2 separate regions of the Homo sapiens genome follow, and region 2 is linked to region 1. The links come from fine-mapping of genetic effects on gene expression. Tissue or cell type: whole blood. Region 1 holds a variant in brackets; the other region holds the start of a gene. All regions are shown on one strand. Distances are between the middles of the regions.

Evidence for each region. PIP is the estimated chance that this variant, and not a neighbour inherited with it, causes the effect.
Region 2: it holds the start of H6PD, and the variant in region 1 is fine-mapped to the expression of H6PD in whole blood (TOPMed, PIP above 0.99).

Annotation. Positions count from the first base shown.
Region 1 is chr1:9,256,161-9,264,300 of GRCh38, reverse strand. H6PD (hexose-6-phosphate dehydrogenase/glucose 1-dehydrogenase) reads right to left here. Exons shown (of 5, transcript NM_004285.4): 4 at 1,973-2,242; 5 at 1-792. Among named protein-coding and RNA genes, the nearest start is that of H6PD, 25 kb to the right of the region's middle. The variant GACA/A (reference allele first, on the strand shown) is at 4,031.
Region 2 is chr1:9,231,542-9,239,716 of GRCh38, reverse strand. H6PD (hexose-6-phosphate dehydrogenase/glucose 1-dehydrogenase) reads right to left here and starts at 4,943. Exons shown (of 5, transcript NM_004285.4): 1 at 4,651-4,943. RefSeq lists a silencer at 4,531-5,090.

The DNA.
Region 1 (8,140 bases):
CCAGCTGCTGGAACAGGGCCACGGGGCTCGAGCCCCCCGACAGTGCCAGGTGGAACTGGCCAAAGCGCCGCACGGCTCGCACAGCGGTGGCCTCGATGTCATTAGCCAGCTTAGAGATCAGCTCCTCGGACCAGGCGGAGACCAGCGGGCTCTCTCGGTACTTGGCCCTGAGGACCTGGAAGTCACTGGGCATTGGGGCCGGCCCTGGCCCTGGCACCAGCTGCTCCGGCTGCTGCTGGGAAAAGAACAACCGGCCGCTACTGAACTCAAAGTCCAACAGACGGCCATTCTCAGCTCCTCCAGGGTAGAGGCGTGGGGCCTTATGGGCCAGGCTCTCCAGCAGAGGGGTCCAGAAGTTCCAGGAGGCCAGCAAGTTCTCTGTGGTGATGAAGAAATTCTTCCGGCCATGGAAGATATGGGATAAGAGGACGGAGTGGGCGTCCCGCTCCCGCACAGGGCTGTAGGCGTAGTAATCGGACAGAGGGCTGCCGAAAAGGCGGAGCCCAGGTGGTCCCTCCATTTCCTTCCAGCTGGAGGGCAGGGAGGGCCTGAACAGGTTCCTGCTGACCAGCACGGCAGGGCTGCCCAGGTCGCCATGGCCGATGTGGAAGACGAGCTGCCGGGGCAGGCACTGGCTCTGCGCCGCGGCCCAGTGCTTTTCGCTCTGCACACAGCAGGCCTGGTTCTTGAACAAGATCCGAGCGTAGCCCACTCTCTCGTCCAAGGCTTTGCCAGACATCAGGATGAAAGGCACGCCCTCCCAGCGAAGGTTGTCAATGTGCACTAGGACGGCTGGGGTGAGGGAACAGCAGAGGGTGACTCTCTGGCACAGACCAGGACTCTCCGGCCAGCCCTCTCCTCTCCTTGCCGGCTCCTCTGGGCGTCCCCCTGCCTCAGGGAAGCCCCTCGCCTTGCCATGCTCACCCCTCGCCTGGCATCTCTTCCATGACCTTCTCTTCCCAGTCCATGCTTGAAAACCGGCCTCTGGGGCTATCTCTATGGCTTTGACACCTGCCTTCATTGAGGCCCCTCTTAGAGTTATGGTCCCCCAGGAAAGGAGAACCGGGCTGAGAGCATCCAACCTGGAGACTCTAAAGGACGCCCCACAGTGGGGGCAAGTGGGGTGGGGGACCCTGACTCTTAGGTATTTGAGGGGTCAGGGGGTCCTACAGAGAAACGTGCTTCCCTCCTGCTTGTGAAGCATTCAGGATGCACCCGACGCAGGGTCAGAGGTGCGGGGTGAGGAGAGAGTCACCAAGCAGAGGCCCGTGGGTGGGGTGTTGGCAAGGAGGGACAAGGCCTGGTGGCAAGAGCCAGGGGCTGACAGTATTCCATGCCCAAGTTCCAAGCCTGGTTCATTCTGACGACTTCACCGAGCCTTACGTTTCCTCACCTGTAAAACGGGGCTAATGGCCCCTGCCTCGTGGTTGGTGCGTGAGGCTTGTATGAGAGGCATCTATAAAGCACCTGGCATACGGCGCGTGCTCAACAGGCAGCTGTGGCTCTTACTGCCTGGCTGCTACCTGGTGAGGAGCCAGCCTCTCCCAGAAAGCCCTGGGTCTCTGGAACTGCCCAGAGGACAGCCCTGGCATGGCACTTGGCCGCTGGAAGTGTCTCCAGCTGTGGCCAGGCAAAAGGCTTGCGGCCTCACTGGGGAGACCCTATGAGGCAGGAACCAGGTCTGTCTGAGCCTCGCACGACAAACCCTTGGGAAGCATCTGGGACTGAACTGGGGCTGACACGAGGCCATGGCCATTGGGATGTCCTTCGCCCTGAGGGCACCACCAGCTGGCCTGCCACTTTAGGCTGGTAGGAGGCCAGGGAGACAGGGGAATGCCATCCTTGCCTCCGAGCACCCTGGGGGAAATCCCACCTCAAGTCCCCTCCACTCCACCCAAGGGCGTCTGCATTTGGAAAGCTGCTCCCGGCGAAGTGGGCAGCCCAGTGCCCCATGCCCAGCCCCAGGGCCCACCTGCGAAGGTCGGCGTCAGGCTGTGGAAGCTGTCTGGCTTCTGCAGCTCTCTGCGCACCTGCTCACTGTAAGACTGGTACTGGCCCACGACGGCACTGCCCCTCTGCAGGCCCCGCAGCGCCTGGAAGACCTGAAGCTTGTGCCGCAGCACAGCCTCCGCACTGCTGACATTGTGGGGCAGCTCCATGGCCACGAGGGTGAGGACCTCCGTCAGATGGTTCTGGAGGACGTCGCGAATGACACCGTACTCCTCATAGAAGCTGGTGCGGCCTGGTGGAGGGAGGTGGAGAAGTGGGGAGGATCTAAAGAGAGGCCAGAACATCAGATCTCCCCGAGGTGCACCAAAACCCCAGCCCGCACATTCATCCTGCATCCTCTTCCCCCAGTCCACAGGGCCTATAAAAATGGTGCACACCAAAGCCAACCTCACCACGAGAAGGGAGGGAGGAAGTCTTGAAGCCACCTCTGTCAATGAGAACTACTGTAAGAGAAGGCGTCAAATCCGTGAGCCTCTACAGAAATCCACATGAAGAAAGCTCTATTCCCAGCAAAGGCCAGATTGCCTCTGTAGATACTGGCCAGCCCCTCGCCCCGCCCTGCCTGGCCACTGCCAGTAGGAGGCTCGGCACTGTGGGGGCTATGGCACCATGGCGGGGGCTGCAGCACCCCAGAGTATGACTGCCACTTACTAGCATGTGATCTTGGGTAAGTTACTTGACTTTTGTTCCTGCATCCTGCCCTTGGATGAGACTAACAAGTGCCACCTCACTACCGGGCGCACACCTGTGCCAGGCAATGTGCAGGGGAGTGGGAGGGAGGGAAAGTGGGAAGAAGAGAAAAGGAAGTAAACAAAATTACAGAGCAGTTGTGACAGAGGGTAATGAAAAGGCCCCTCCGAGACCTGAAGAGCCAGCCTCGCAAAAAGCCAGGGAGAAAGCATCTCAGCTGCAGGGACCCTCAGGTGCCAAAGCCCCGAGGCAGGAAGGAACTTGGTGTGCTGGGGGCCAGATGGAGGTGAGCAAAGAGTGGGGACAGCGGTGAGGCTGGAGAGGAGATCAGGGGTCTTGCAGGATAAGGCGAAGAGGCTGGACTTTTTTCTAAGATCAGTTGTAGGGGGGACACTGGAGGATCTGAGGCAGGAGAAGACGAGACCTGACCTATATTGGGGATCGACCCCTGGTCTTGGGGGGAGAATGGGTGCAGATGCAGGGAAGGCAAGGAAGAGGCTGCACAGCTGCCCAGCAGAGACGACAGGGCCTGGACTAATGGGCAGTACAGGAGCTGGAGGGGAGGGAGAGGCACCCCAGAGTCAGGATTGACTGGACCTGCTGACAGATGGGGTGGGTGTGAGCAAAATGGAGGCCCCCAACATGAGCCCTGGAAGTGGGGCCTGAGCAGAGGGATGGGCAGTGGAGGCGCTCACAGACACGGGGAGGCGGAAGCAGAGGGGTTTGGTGGAGGGTTTAGGTGTGTTTAGGCTGAAGACCCCCAGGCGCAGATGTCCAGTTGTCAGGTGTACGGGGTAACTGTGACGATAAAAGGGAAGAACACCTGGAGAACATGGAGCAGCACGACCAGCATAACAACAGCAACATAACAACACCAGCCTAACAACACAACACCAGCATAACAGCAGTGCAGCAACACCAGCGTAACAACAACATAACAACACCAATGTAACAACAGCAACATAACAACATTGGCGTAACATAACAACATCAGAATAACAGCAGTGCAACACCAGTGTAACAACAACATAACAACAGCAGAGTAACAACGGCAACATAACAGCAGCAACGTAACAACACTGGTGTAACAACAGCAACGTAACAACACTGGCGTAACAGCAACATAACACTGGTGTAACAACATAACACCAGCATAACAACAACAAAACAACACCAGCATAACAACATAACACCACCGTAACAACAGCAACATAACAACACTGGTGTAACAACAATGCAACACCAGTGTAACAACAGCAACATAACACTGGTGTAACAACAATATAACAACACTGGCGTAACAACAGCAACATAACAGCACTGGCGTAAC[GACA/A]ACATAACAGCACTGGTGTAACGACATAACACTGGCGTAACAACAGCAACACCAGTGTCAACAGCAATGTAACAACACCAGCATAACAACAACATAACACCAGCTTAACAACAGCAATATAACACCAGCTAACAGCAACGTAACAACACTGGCGTAACAACATAACGACACCGGCGTAACAACAGCAACGTAACAACACCGGAGTAACAACATAACACCAGCATAACAGCAGTGCAACAACACCAGCATAACAACATAACAACAGTAACATAATACCAGTGTAACAACAACATAACAGCAGAGTAACAACAGCAACATAACACCACCAGCATAACAACAACGTAACAACACTGGCGTAACAACAGCAACATAACACTGGTGTAACAACAACATAACACCGGCGTAACACCAGCATAACAACAACAAAACAACACCAGCATAACAACATAACACCACCGTAACAACAGCAACATAACAACACTGGTGTAACAACAATGTAACACCAGTGTAACAACAGCAACATAACACCGGTGTAACAACAATATAACAACACTGGCGTAACAACAGCAACATAACACCGGTGTTAAGAGCAATGTAACAACACCAGCATAACAACAACGTAACACCAGCTTAATAACAGCAATATAACACCATTGTAACAGCAACGTAACAACACTGGTGTGACAATGTAACAACACTGGAATAACAGCAACATAATACTAGTGTAACAACCACATAACACCAGCATAACAGCAACGTAACAACACTGGCGTAACAACAATATAACAACACCAGCATAACAACATAACAACACTGGCTTAACAGCAACATAACACTGGTGTAACAACAAGTTGTTGTAACACCACCACCAGTGTAACAACAACACAACACTGGCGCAACAATGGTGTAACCATACAACACCAGTGTAACAACAACATAACAACACTGGTGTAACAACAGCAACATAACAACACCGGTGTGGCCAGGCATGGTGGCTCACGCCCATAATCCCAGCACTTTGGGAGGCCAAGGCAGGCGGATCACGAGGTCAGGAGATCGAGACCATCCTAACATGGTGAAACCCCGTCTCTACTAAAAAATACAAAAAATTAGCTGGGCGTGGTGGCGGGCGCCTGTAGTCCCAGCTACTTGGGAGGCTGAGGCAGGAGAATGGCGTGAACCCAGGAGGCAGAGCTTGCAGTGAGCTGAGATCGCACCACTACACTCCAGCCTGGGCGACAGAGCGAGACTCTGCCTCAAAAACAAAAACAAACAAACAAAAAACATCAGTGTAACAACAGCAACATAACACCATCATCGTAACAGCAATGTAACACTGGCATAACAACATAACACCGATGTAACAACAGCAACATAACAACACCAGCGTAACAACAACATAACAACAGTAACACAACACCAGCATAACAACAACATAACAACACCAGAGTAACAACAGCAATGTAACAACACTGGTGTAACAACAACATAACAACACCAGCATAACAATGTAACAACACCGATGTAACAGCAGCAACATAACAACACCGGTGTAACAACAACATAACACTGGTGTAACAATGTAACACCAGCGTAACAACAACAAAACAACACCGGCATAACACTGGCACAACACCGGCATAACAGCAACATAACAACGGTGTTAACAGCAATGTTACAACACCAGCATAACAATATAACACCAGCTTAACAGCAATGTAACAACACTGGTGTAACAGCAACATAACACCAGTGTAACAACACAACACCGGCATAACAATGGTGTACAACACCGGTGTAACAACAACATAACACTGGTGTAACAACAGCATAACAACAGCAACATTAACACTGACATAACAACATAACAACACTGGGATAAGAATGACAACACCAGTGTAACAACAACATAACACTGGTGTAACAACAATGTAACAACCCTGGCGTAACAATATCGGTATAACAACGTAACAACACGGGTGTAACAACAGCAACGTAACAACACTGATGTAACAACACCAACATAACACCACCAGCGTAACAACAGCAACATAACAACACTGGCGTAACAACACCGGTGTAACAATAGCAACGTAACAACACCAGCATAACAACACCAACGCTGACAGCAGCCCCGGCCCGCGCCGCTCCTCCCCATACTCACAAAGACCCTGCACGCAGGCACCGTGATCACTCCTGCTCCGCGAGTGAGGAAGGAGGCAGGTGACCAGGCGCGGGGGCAGAAGCAGACACTGCTTAACCACGAGCTCCGCTCCACTCCCTCCTCTGAGGCTGAACCCCGGTGAGCACTGATTATCGGTGACTCGAATATACAGGACAGTCCCAGAGATCAGGGTTCCAACGCATACCACCTCGCAGGAGAGTTCCAATGCCCAAGTCTCCTCACACCCTCACCTACAGAGAGAGCCTGGCCTCAGACACGAGGAGCCATCATTTCTCAAAGGCTTCTGCACGTAGGACCCCTAACCTGGGATTTGTTTGTTCACCCAGCAAACTCCCAGTCATCCTTAAGGGCTCAGCTTCTAGGAGCTTTGGCCTACCCCTTCTGAGGGGCCCTGGCTTCTTCTAGCCCAGCTGACTGTAATTCAGGCCTGTTTCTCTTTCTTCCCCACTACGAGGGAGGCTCCATCTGAGTGGCATCTGCCCTCTGCTGCATCCCTAGCCCCTAACACAGCACTACGTTCAGACAGTGGACAGCAGAGAAAATGAAGATCCACACATTGTCACGGATAAACCTCCAAGACGTAATGTGGTGAGAAAGCAACATGATTACTTTGATAAAATAAAAATTAACTTGAAAATAGGATATAGGCCAGGCGGACTGGCTCATGCTGGTAATCCCAGCACTTTGGGAGGCCAAGGCAGGAGGATCACTTGAGCCCAGAGTCCAGGAGTTCAAGACCATCTTGGGCAACAAAGTGAGACCCTGTTTCTACAAAAAATTAAAAAAAAAAAATTAGCCAAGTGTGGTCCCAACTATTTGGGAGGCTGGGGTGGGAGGATTGCTTGAGCCCAGGAGGTCAAGGCTGCAGTGAGCTGTGAACCTGCCACTGCACCCCATCTGGACAACACCGCATGAGACCCTGTCTCAAAAAAAAAAAAGAAAGAAAAAGAAAACAGGATATAAAGTGACCAAAATAAACAGAACTTCAATAAATGAAAAATATAATTGGAAACTAGAAATTCAGTAGATGGGCCTTACAGATGAGAAACAGCTGTAAAGAGTCAGCTAGCAGAAGACAGAGCTGAGGCGATTCTCCCAAATGCTGGACACAGAGACAAAAAGATCCATGCTCGGACACATACAGGATGACTCTTGTTCAAAATTAAACAACAGGTTGTTTAGGGAACCAGGCGTGCATGGAAACAGAAAGAGAAGCGAGGGAATAATCTATCCACAATTTGGAAGTGTAAGATGAGGAAATAGGTCAGAACGTGGGGAGGGACACGCAGGAGAATCAAATTCTTTTTTAAAAACGGGTGGTAGGTGCATCCCCGTTTCTTATACCATAGTTCTGTATCTCTTCCATGCATTCTGTAAACTTTAAATTTACCTAGTATCTAGTTAACATTTAATTCCAACAGACAAAAAGCAGCAGATCCTAAGTTCAGGCCTGCTGAGCCCAGCATGCTCCCCTCCCAGCAGCCACTCTGGGTCCATGGCGCCAGTCCTGGGCACCTGCCCTGACCAGGTTGGTGGTGTGCACTCTCGGGCCAACCAGACAGCAAGCATGTCCAGGTCATGGCTGGGGGAACAACCTGCCCTGAATCCAGCCCGATATGCCATTCCCGACAGCAGCACCAGTGTTGGGGGGCAAGAAATGAAGCCGGCAGCCACTCGTAGGAAGGCACTCTGTCCCCGGCCATAACAACCAGGAGCTAGAGGGTGCAGCTCTGTCCAGGGATACTAAACCTTGAAATGAGCAGGAAGTCCAGCCCAACTGTGCCAACCAAAATGCCAAGAGTGGTCTCCACTGGGAAAACAATGGCTGAGATCCCCCAGCTCTGTAGTGTTGTGGCCTTCAAGTTCTTGTGCTATTGTTGAGAAGACATCCAGAAAAAGAGAAACTGATGCCAGCAATGTTT
Region 2 (8,175 bases), 25 kb after region 1:
TGTGCGCCAGGCAGGAGGAAGGGAAATTTTCTTCAAATCATGACCCATGAGTTTGGAATTTTTTAAAAAGAACATGTGGGAGTAAAACAAAAGTTCAAACTAAAGATCATTTGAAACTAAAGCACAAGGTGATGTGCCTAGTCTTTTTACAATAGCCAACCCAAGGTTTTTGTTTTTGTTGTTTTTTGTCTGTTTTTTGCAATCTTCCTGTTCTGGTCCATTTATGCTGAACCCATCAATGCAGATAAAAATCAAGCCTGCTATCAATGACCTCTGATCTGCATTCACTGCCCTAAGGGCCAGAATGGGGACAAAAGCTTCCAGATCGGGCTCTGGGGTCCTTGTTCCTCTCTCATCTCAGAGAATCCTCATCCCATCTTTAGGCACCTGTCCTGTAATCCCAGCACTTTGGGAGACTGAGACGGGAGGACTACTTGAGCCCAGGAGATTGAGACCAGCCTGGGCAACATGGCAAAAACCCGTTTCTACTAAAAATACAAAAGTTAGCTGGGTGTGGTGGCGGGTGCCTGTAATCCCAGCTACTTGGGAGGCTGAGGCAGAATAATTGCTTGAACCCAGGAGGCGGAGGCTGCAGTGAGCAGAGATTGCACCACTGCACTCCAGCCTGGGTGACAGAGTGAGACTCTGTCTCAAAAAAAAAAACCATTAAATTAAAAAGAAAGGTAATAAATACTCAAAACTCATTACTTCCTAATCATCTGACTACATTTCACTAATATCTATGCTCTTGATATTATTTATATCCACTGCATCTATGAGGTGAAGATATTCTATTATAGTGTATTTGAAGTTGGCCAACGTCAGAATATTTACACCACAGATATAGGCAAAGGCTATAAATCAGGTTCCCCACTACCAACCCCACCCCTCACAGAGTCAGTTGGTAAACATTACCAGCACACAACTGCCTATCCGTCCAAGTCTTTATTTACAGCCCGAACTTCCCCTAAACTCCAGACTCATGCAGTCAATTGCTATTCTGAGAGCATGAGTGGGATGTTTGCCAGACTTAATATGTACAAAACTGAACTGATTTCTCTCCCAATCTGCTTCCAATGTAGCTTTCCCCATTATCAGTAAATGACAACTCTATCTTTCCAGGTGTTCAGACCCAGAAACCTTGAGGTCATCGTATCTGTCAGCAAATCCTGTAGTTTCTATCTTCAAAATTTATCTAGAATACAACTGCTTCTCACCACCTTCCACCACTCCACTCCAGTGCCAGCCACCGTCATCTCCGTCTGGATTACTACAGGAACTTCCTAATTGGCCTCCTCTGTCTACCTGGACCCTCTATGGCTGAGCCTCAACACGGCAGTCAGAGTGACCTTTTTATAGCTCCAGCTGGATCATGCCATTCCTCTGTGCAGATGTCTGCAGAGTCTACACATTCTGGCCTCCCACCCATTACCTCTTTGATCTCTTCTCTTACCATCCTGCCTGTCTAGGCTCTGGCCGCCCAGCCTCCTGCCTCAGGGCCTTTGCACTTGTTCTCTCCGCCTGGCCAACTCCCCCATGTCCCCCACCAGGTCCACGTGGTTTACTCCCTCACTAATTTTTCTTTGCTAAAATGTCATCTTCTCAGTGAGGCTTACTCAGACCACTCTAAAATTGTAAACCGCCCACCCCCATCCTCCTCTCCTGCTTTATTTCTCCCCACAGTACATCGCTTTCTAATATACTGTATGATAATTACATTCATTTTGCCTATTGTCTGCCATTCCTTTTCCCAAGAGTGTGCGTGCCAATGAGGACAGGGACTTTTGTTTGTTTTGTTCTCCGCAGTACCTCCAGTATCCAAAACAAGGCCTGGCATACAGAAGGCGCTCTATAAATATCTGCTAAATGAACAAATAAATCCCATTTGCACAGGACCACTGTCATTTCTGCATTTGAAATACGGCACAAAGGAATATACCTCTAATGGTGACTTCAAGCACTGTGACACAGCACACAGCAGCAGCTTACTACTTGGAACAACACTTTTAATAATAAAAGAGCTATTTATGGAGTATTTAACTATATGCCAAATGCTAGGCTATCGGTGTGACATGCATCACACCATTTAAATCTTGCCACAACCATATGAGGTAGGTAACATGATTATCCCCATCTTAGCAGGGAGTAGAGAGGAAACTAAGGCAAAGAGAAGTCAAATAACATGGCCAGGCGCAGTGGCTTACGCCTATAATCCCAGCACTTTGGGAGGCTGAGGCAGGAGGATCATTGGAGGTCGGGAGTTTAAAACCAGCCTGGCCAACACGGTGAAACCCCGTCTCTACTAACAATACAAAAATTAGCCAGGCGTGGTGGCAGGTGCCTGTAATCCCAGCTACTTGGGAGGCTGAGGGAGCAGAATCACTTGAACCTAGGAGGCGAACGTTGCAGTGAGCTGAGATTGCGCCCCTGGGCAACAGAGCAAGACTCCATCTCAAAAAAAAAAAAAAAAAAAAAAAAAAGAGAAGTCAAATAACTTACCAAAGGTCAAGCAGCTAGAGGTGATAGGATTTGAATACAGGCAGTCTGGTCCCAGAGCTAACCTTCCCGTAAAATGTGACTACATCCCTGAATGGCAAAATGTAAAACACTGTATTACATTTACACTGTATCAGTGTAGATACTGAACAGTGGTTTAAACCAGACAGGCTGTTTCTCTGCTCCATGAAGTCAAGCTGTTCCGAACACTAACTGCGGTAACCAGCCTCTGCCTCCCGGGTCCGCTTTGCCTTTCACAGTTCTTCCTTCTGACATCATGAAGACATCATGTATAAGCCTCAGTTGCTTTGTTGAAACGTGGAAGACCTTCAAGGGCTAGTTTTTGGAGAACTGGTTACATAAGAATATTCTGGATTCAAATCCCTGCCACTCAGTAACTATGTACCCTCAGACAAGTTATTTAACCTCTCTGTACCTCAACCACAGAATGGGAAAACAAATCGATGGGAAGCATGTAAGGTACTTAGCACAATGCCTGGCATACAGTAAGCACCCAAGAAATCCTAGCTGCTTTTTTTTTTTTTTTTTTTTAAGGAGAAGTCTAGCTTTGTCACCCAGGCTGGAGTGCAGTGGCACGATCTTGGTTCACTGCAACCTCCGTCACCGGAGGCAGGGCGGTTCAAGCGATTTTCCTGCCTTAGCCTCCCCAGCAGCTGGGATTACAGGCATCCGCTGCCCCCATGCCCAGCAAATTTTTGTATTTTTAGTAGAGACGGGGTTTCACCATGTTGGCAAGGCTGGTCTTGAACTCTTCAAGTGACCTGCCCGCCCTGGCCTCCGAAAGTGTTGGGATTACAGGCGTGAGCCACTGGGCCCGGCCAGAAATGTTAGTTTCTATCATTAAACCATTAGCTTCACGAATGAAGTCCTTCTTGCTAGCTTCTTGAACTGCTGTTAAAACCAACTAACCAGCTGGGCGCGGTGGTTCATGCCTGTAATCCCAGCACTTTGGGAGGCCGAGGTGGTGGATCACCTGAGGTCAGCAGTTCAAGACAAGCCTGGATAACATAGTGAAACCCTGTTTCTACTAAAAAATACATAAAATTAGCCGGGTGTGGTGGCACGCGCCTGTAATCCCAGCCACTCAGGAGGCTGAGGTGGAAGAATCGCTTGAACCAGGAGGAGAAGGTTGCAGTGGGCCGAGATCGCGCCATTGCACTCCAGCTTGGGCAACAACTAACCATCAACCACAGAAAAATGCCAAGGAAAAACTCAGACAGCTTTTCATGATCTTCCAATCATAATGATGAAAAATTAAAGGGATATGATGCATAATTTAAAATACGCTGTCTGGGCGTGGTGCTTCACACCTGTAATCCCAACACTTCGTAAGGCTTAAGCAGGAGGATCGCTTGAGCCCAGGAGTTCGAGACCAGCCAGGGCAACATAGTGAGACCACTGTCTCTACAAAAGGTTTAAAAATTAGCCAGGCGTGGTGGTGTGCGCCTGTGGTCCCAGCTACCCCGGAGGCTGAGGCAGGACGATGGCCTGAGCCCAAGAGGTGGAGGCTGCAGGGAACCGTGTTTGTGCCACTGTACTCCAGCCTGGGCAACCAAGCAAGACCCCATCTTTTATAAGTAAAAGATTTTTTACTTTTATATAAAAAAGTAAAAAGATAAAATAAAAAATATGCCCATTTGACACCAGTTTTCCCTCATCTGCTGCCTTTCATGAGCCATGGGCCTGTTGTGGGTGCAGGGGGAGTGGGCAAGGACACTTCTTTCCAGAAGTTCTCACTTCTGGCTAAGCATTCAAGGTTGGGTGAGCTGATTTTCAGAGATCCAGAGAGGTTTGCCCCTGGAAAACCGTTCACTAGATCCGGGTACGGGAAACGCTATGTGAAACCCGAGGGCCAATCAATGCCAAAGATTAAGCAGGTCCCGGGGGAAATCTCGGAGTTCCCCCTCTCCTGGAACTCAGTTCCGGGAAGCCCAGGGAAAGGACAGCTCGGCCGCTCGGGGCGACCCTGGAGGGAGCCTGGCCGCCTCCTGAGCAGTTCCAAAGCCGCCAGCCCCAGGCTCCGTGGGGCTGGCAGCGCAGGCTCCGGGGCTCGGCGCGGCCTCGGGCCCGGCGGCAGCGCGGGTTGGAGGCGCCGGGGCCGGGGCGGCGGCGGGGCCGGCGGGGGGCGCTTACTTCCTCTCGCGCGGCGGCGCAGGCCGCTCCTCCGGGACACGGCCGGGGCGGCGCTGAGGGCCGGGCCCGCTCCCGAGGGCTCCCCTGCGCCCTGGGCCGCACCTCCTCTTCCGCAGGGCCCGTCACTCCGACAAGTGCGCGTGTCACGCGGCCACGCGCCGCACGACACTCCGATACCGCCCGCGGAGCCCGCGGCGGCCGCAGGGGAAGGCGCGAGGCCAAGGCCAGCCCGGCCGCCACCCCGCCCCAGGCCTCAGGCCTCAGGCCTCCACCGCCTTGCGCTCAGCAAGACTGGGGCCCGGGCCGGGGGCGCGCGCGGCGGGGGCGCGCGCGGCGGGGGCGGGGGCGGGGCGGGGGCGCCGGCGAGGCCACGCCCTCCGCTGGCGGCCGCCGGGGCGGGGCCTCGGAGCTTCCGGGGCGAGGCGGTGGGTCAGCTCCGAGCCTCCGCCCCCGCCCTTCCCTTCGGCCCCCTGGTGGCCGTGCGTCCTAGAGCTGTCCTGCCGCGTCCGAGACGCGCGCGGGACCCAGAAGTGGCCGAGGGACGTGGTTGTGTCGTGGAGGGGACCCGGGGTGCTGGCTGCTCCCTACGATCTGGCACCCGCTCTGGGACTCCTCAGGCCTCGCTTTTCCCCATCTGTAGAATGAGCGGCTCGGTCTTTCCCGTCTTCAATATCCAGAGTAGGGATTTAGAAGTCGGAGCGCACACGCTGGCCACGCCTCCGCGCACAGCTTCAGATCTCTGCCACCCCTTATCACTTGTGTGACCCTGAGTTCAGTTTCTTCATCTGTACAGTGGGGACAATGGGAGTACCTGCCTCCGGGGTTGTCTGGCACTTGGGTGCTTAGTAAGCGGAAGCTTGGACCCGTGTGGCAAATAGAAGACTTTTGCTAAGACATTGCTAAGAAAGACAGCAAATGGAATCAGGGCTTCTCTGTAGGGTGAGAGGTATTTAAGTGAGAAAACGGGATCAGCTGCCTCTCAGAGCACTCAGTCCCCTTCCTGTCCCCCACCATTATCAGGCAGTAGGTGGCCCTCACCATGCTCCCCAACCTGCTCCCCACTTTTTCTTTTTTCTTTCTTTTCTTTTCTTTTTTTCTTTTTTTTTTTTTTTTTTTTTTTTGAGACAGGGTCTCGCTCTGTCACCCATGCTGGAGTGCAGTGGCGCTATCACAGCTCACTGCAGCCTCCGCCTCCCAGGCTCAAGTGATCCTCCCGCCTCAGCCTCCCAAGTAACTGGGATCACAGATGTTCGCCACCACTCCTGACTAATTTTTCAACTTTTTGTAGAGACGGGGTCTCACTTTGTTGCCCAGGCTGGTCTCGAACTCCTGGGCCCAAGTGATTCTCCCACGTTGGCCTCCCAAAGTGCTGGGAGGAGATTCTGACCTGAGAGAGAAACTGTGCTGCAGCTTTTTATTTCCCGATGGTTCCATTAGAGGTGGGAGCGTCTGGAACTAGCAGTGGCAACTTGGCAGTGGCCGGCAGGACTGAATGGGGCCAACAGGCATGATTACCACACAGGATGTTAGGCAAGGGGTTCCGGGAAGGCTGGGAACTGAGGGGAGCTGGGCCTCACCGTCACCAAGGCCAGAGGCCATCCGGGCGCCCGCAGAGGGCTGCCAAGCCTCGGCAAGGATTTAGGTCACACTGAGTGGGCCTGGCAGAGGGGGGAGCCAGGGAGCCAGGCACTCTCTGGGCTACCTCCACAGCTGGAAGTGAGCAGGAGGGCTTAGGGCAGGAGCGGGCCAGAGCAGACTCGAATGATGCCGGGACTCTTGGCCTAGAGCCCTTCCCATGTTCTGTGGCCCTGAGTGTGTCAGGCACCCACATAGCTCTGAAAACCAGGGCCCAGGAAGGCACAGATAGAAGTGGGCAGGTGTCCAGAGGCATGACCGGGGGTTCGTTTCCCAGATCTCCATGTGGCCATCAGAGGGTGATCTGCTACCTTGAGGGCTTCTTATAAATAGCCCCAGGTCAGGCGTAGTGGCTCATGCCTGTAATCACAGCACTTTGGGAGGCCGAGGCAGGTGGATCCCCTGAGGTCAGTAGTTCGAGACCAGCCTGGCCAACATGATGAAATCCCATCTCTACTAATAATACAAAAAAAAAAAAAAAAGCCAAGCGTGGTGGCGTGCCTGTAGTCCTAGCTACTCAGATGGCTGAGGCACGAGAATCGCTTGAATCCAGGATGCAGAGGTTGCAGTGAGCCAAGATCGCGCCATTGCACTCCAGCCAGGGCAACAGGGTGAAACTGTGTCAAAAAAAAAAAAAAAAAAAGCCAGGCACGGTGGCTCACGCCTGTAATCCCAGCACTTTGAGAGGCCGAGGCGGGTGGATCACCTGAGGTCGGGAGTTCGAGACCAGCCTGACCAATATGGTGAAACCATGTCTCTACTAAAACTACAAAATTAGCTGGGTGTGGTGGCGCATGCCTGTAATCCCAGCTACTCGGGAGGCTGAGGCAGGAGAATAGCTTGAACCTGGGAGGTGGAGGTTGCGGGGAGCTGAGATCGCGCCACTGCATTCCAGCCTGGGCAACAAGAGTGAAACTCGGTCTCAAAAAAAAAAAAAAAGAAAAAAAAACAAAGCCCCAAACCAAGTCAGTTGTAACCTGCTTACTAAGAAAACGTCCACCTGATTAGGTAACGTTGGGGTGGGGTCTGAGGGGGGAATTAGCCTAGGGGGTCACAATGCCCTCCCAACCCTATGTCCACTCCCACACCACCCTGAGATGTTTCATTTCTCCGCCTGTCTTTCCTCACCTTACCTTCACCTCAGTCTCATCCTGCCTCTGTACCTTCCAGTTTTCTCTGGGCAATCAGTTGCTTTGCTTTCTTTCCATCATGAAGACGATTAGGTCGTGCTAAGACCCAGTCATCCTGGTGTGAGAGTACTGCCACCCAAAACACAAAAATCGAAAACTTTGTCCCTGTGGGCCCTGGCATTGGTTTCTGCACCTTTGCCTGTCTGAAGCTTTTCTTGTTTCCGTGCTGACCGCAGCTACAAGGGACCAGGTGTGCCCAGAACCCCGTGAAGGAAGCCGGGAGAATGAAGGAAGCCGGGAGAAAGGAATGATGCCCCATGGGTGGTCCAGGGGGTGTCCTGTGACCAGAATTCTGTCTGTGGTTTATCTCGTGCTTTATAAGGAGCGCCCTGGGGCTCTATTTATGAAGTGGATTTTTGGGGATTTTTCTTCCTAGCCCTTTAACTGTGGTGTAGGCAGAAGTCAGGGTGAATTCAGCCTGCTTTACAGACAAGGAAAGTGAGACCCAGAGAGATGAATGACTCACAGAGATGCCTGTGGAGTTAGAAATAAAATCCCATTGCAGTTTCTATTTTCAGGTGTCACTCCCTAAGGCAGCTCTGCTGGCTTCGTCTTGCTTCTCGCAGGAGGTGGGGAGGGAGGGAAACAGGTAGAGATTTTTCAGCCACGAGTAGATCTTTTCATCCTCAGACATAAGGAGCCTCTTTTTAAAAATTTTTATTTTATTTTTTGAGACGGAATCTCACTCTGTCACCCAGGC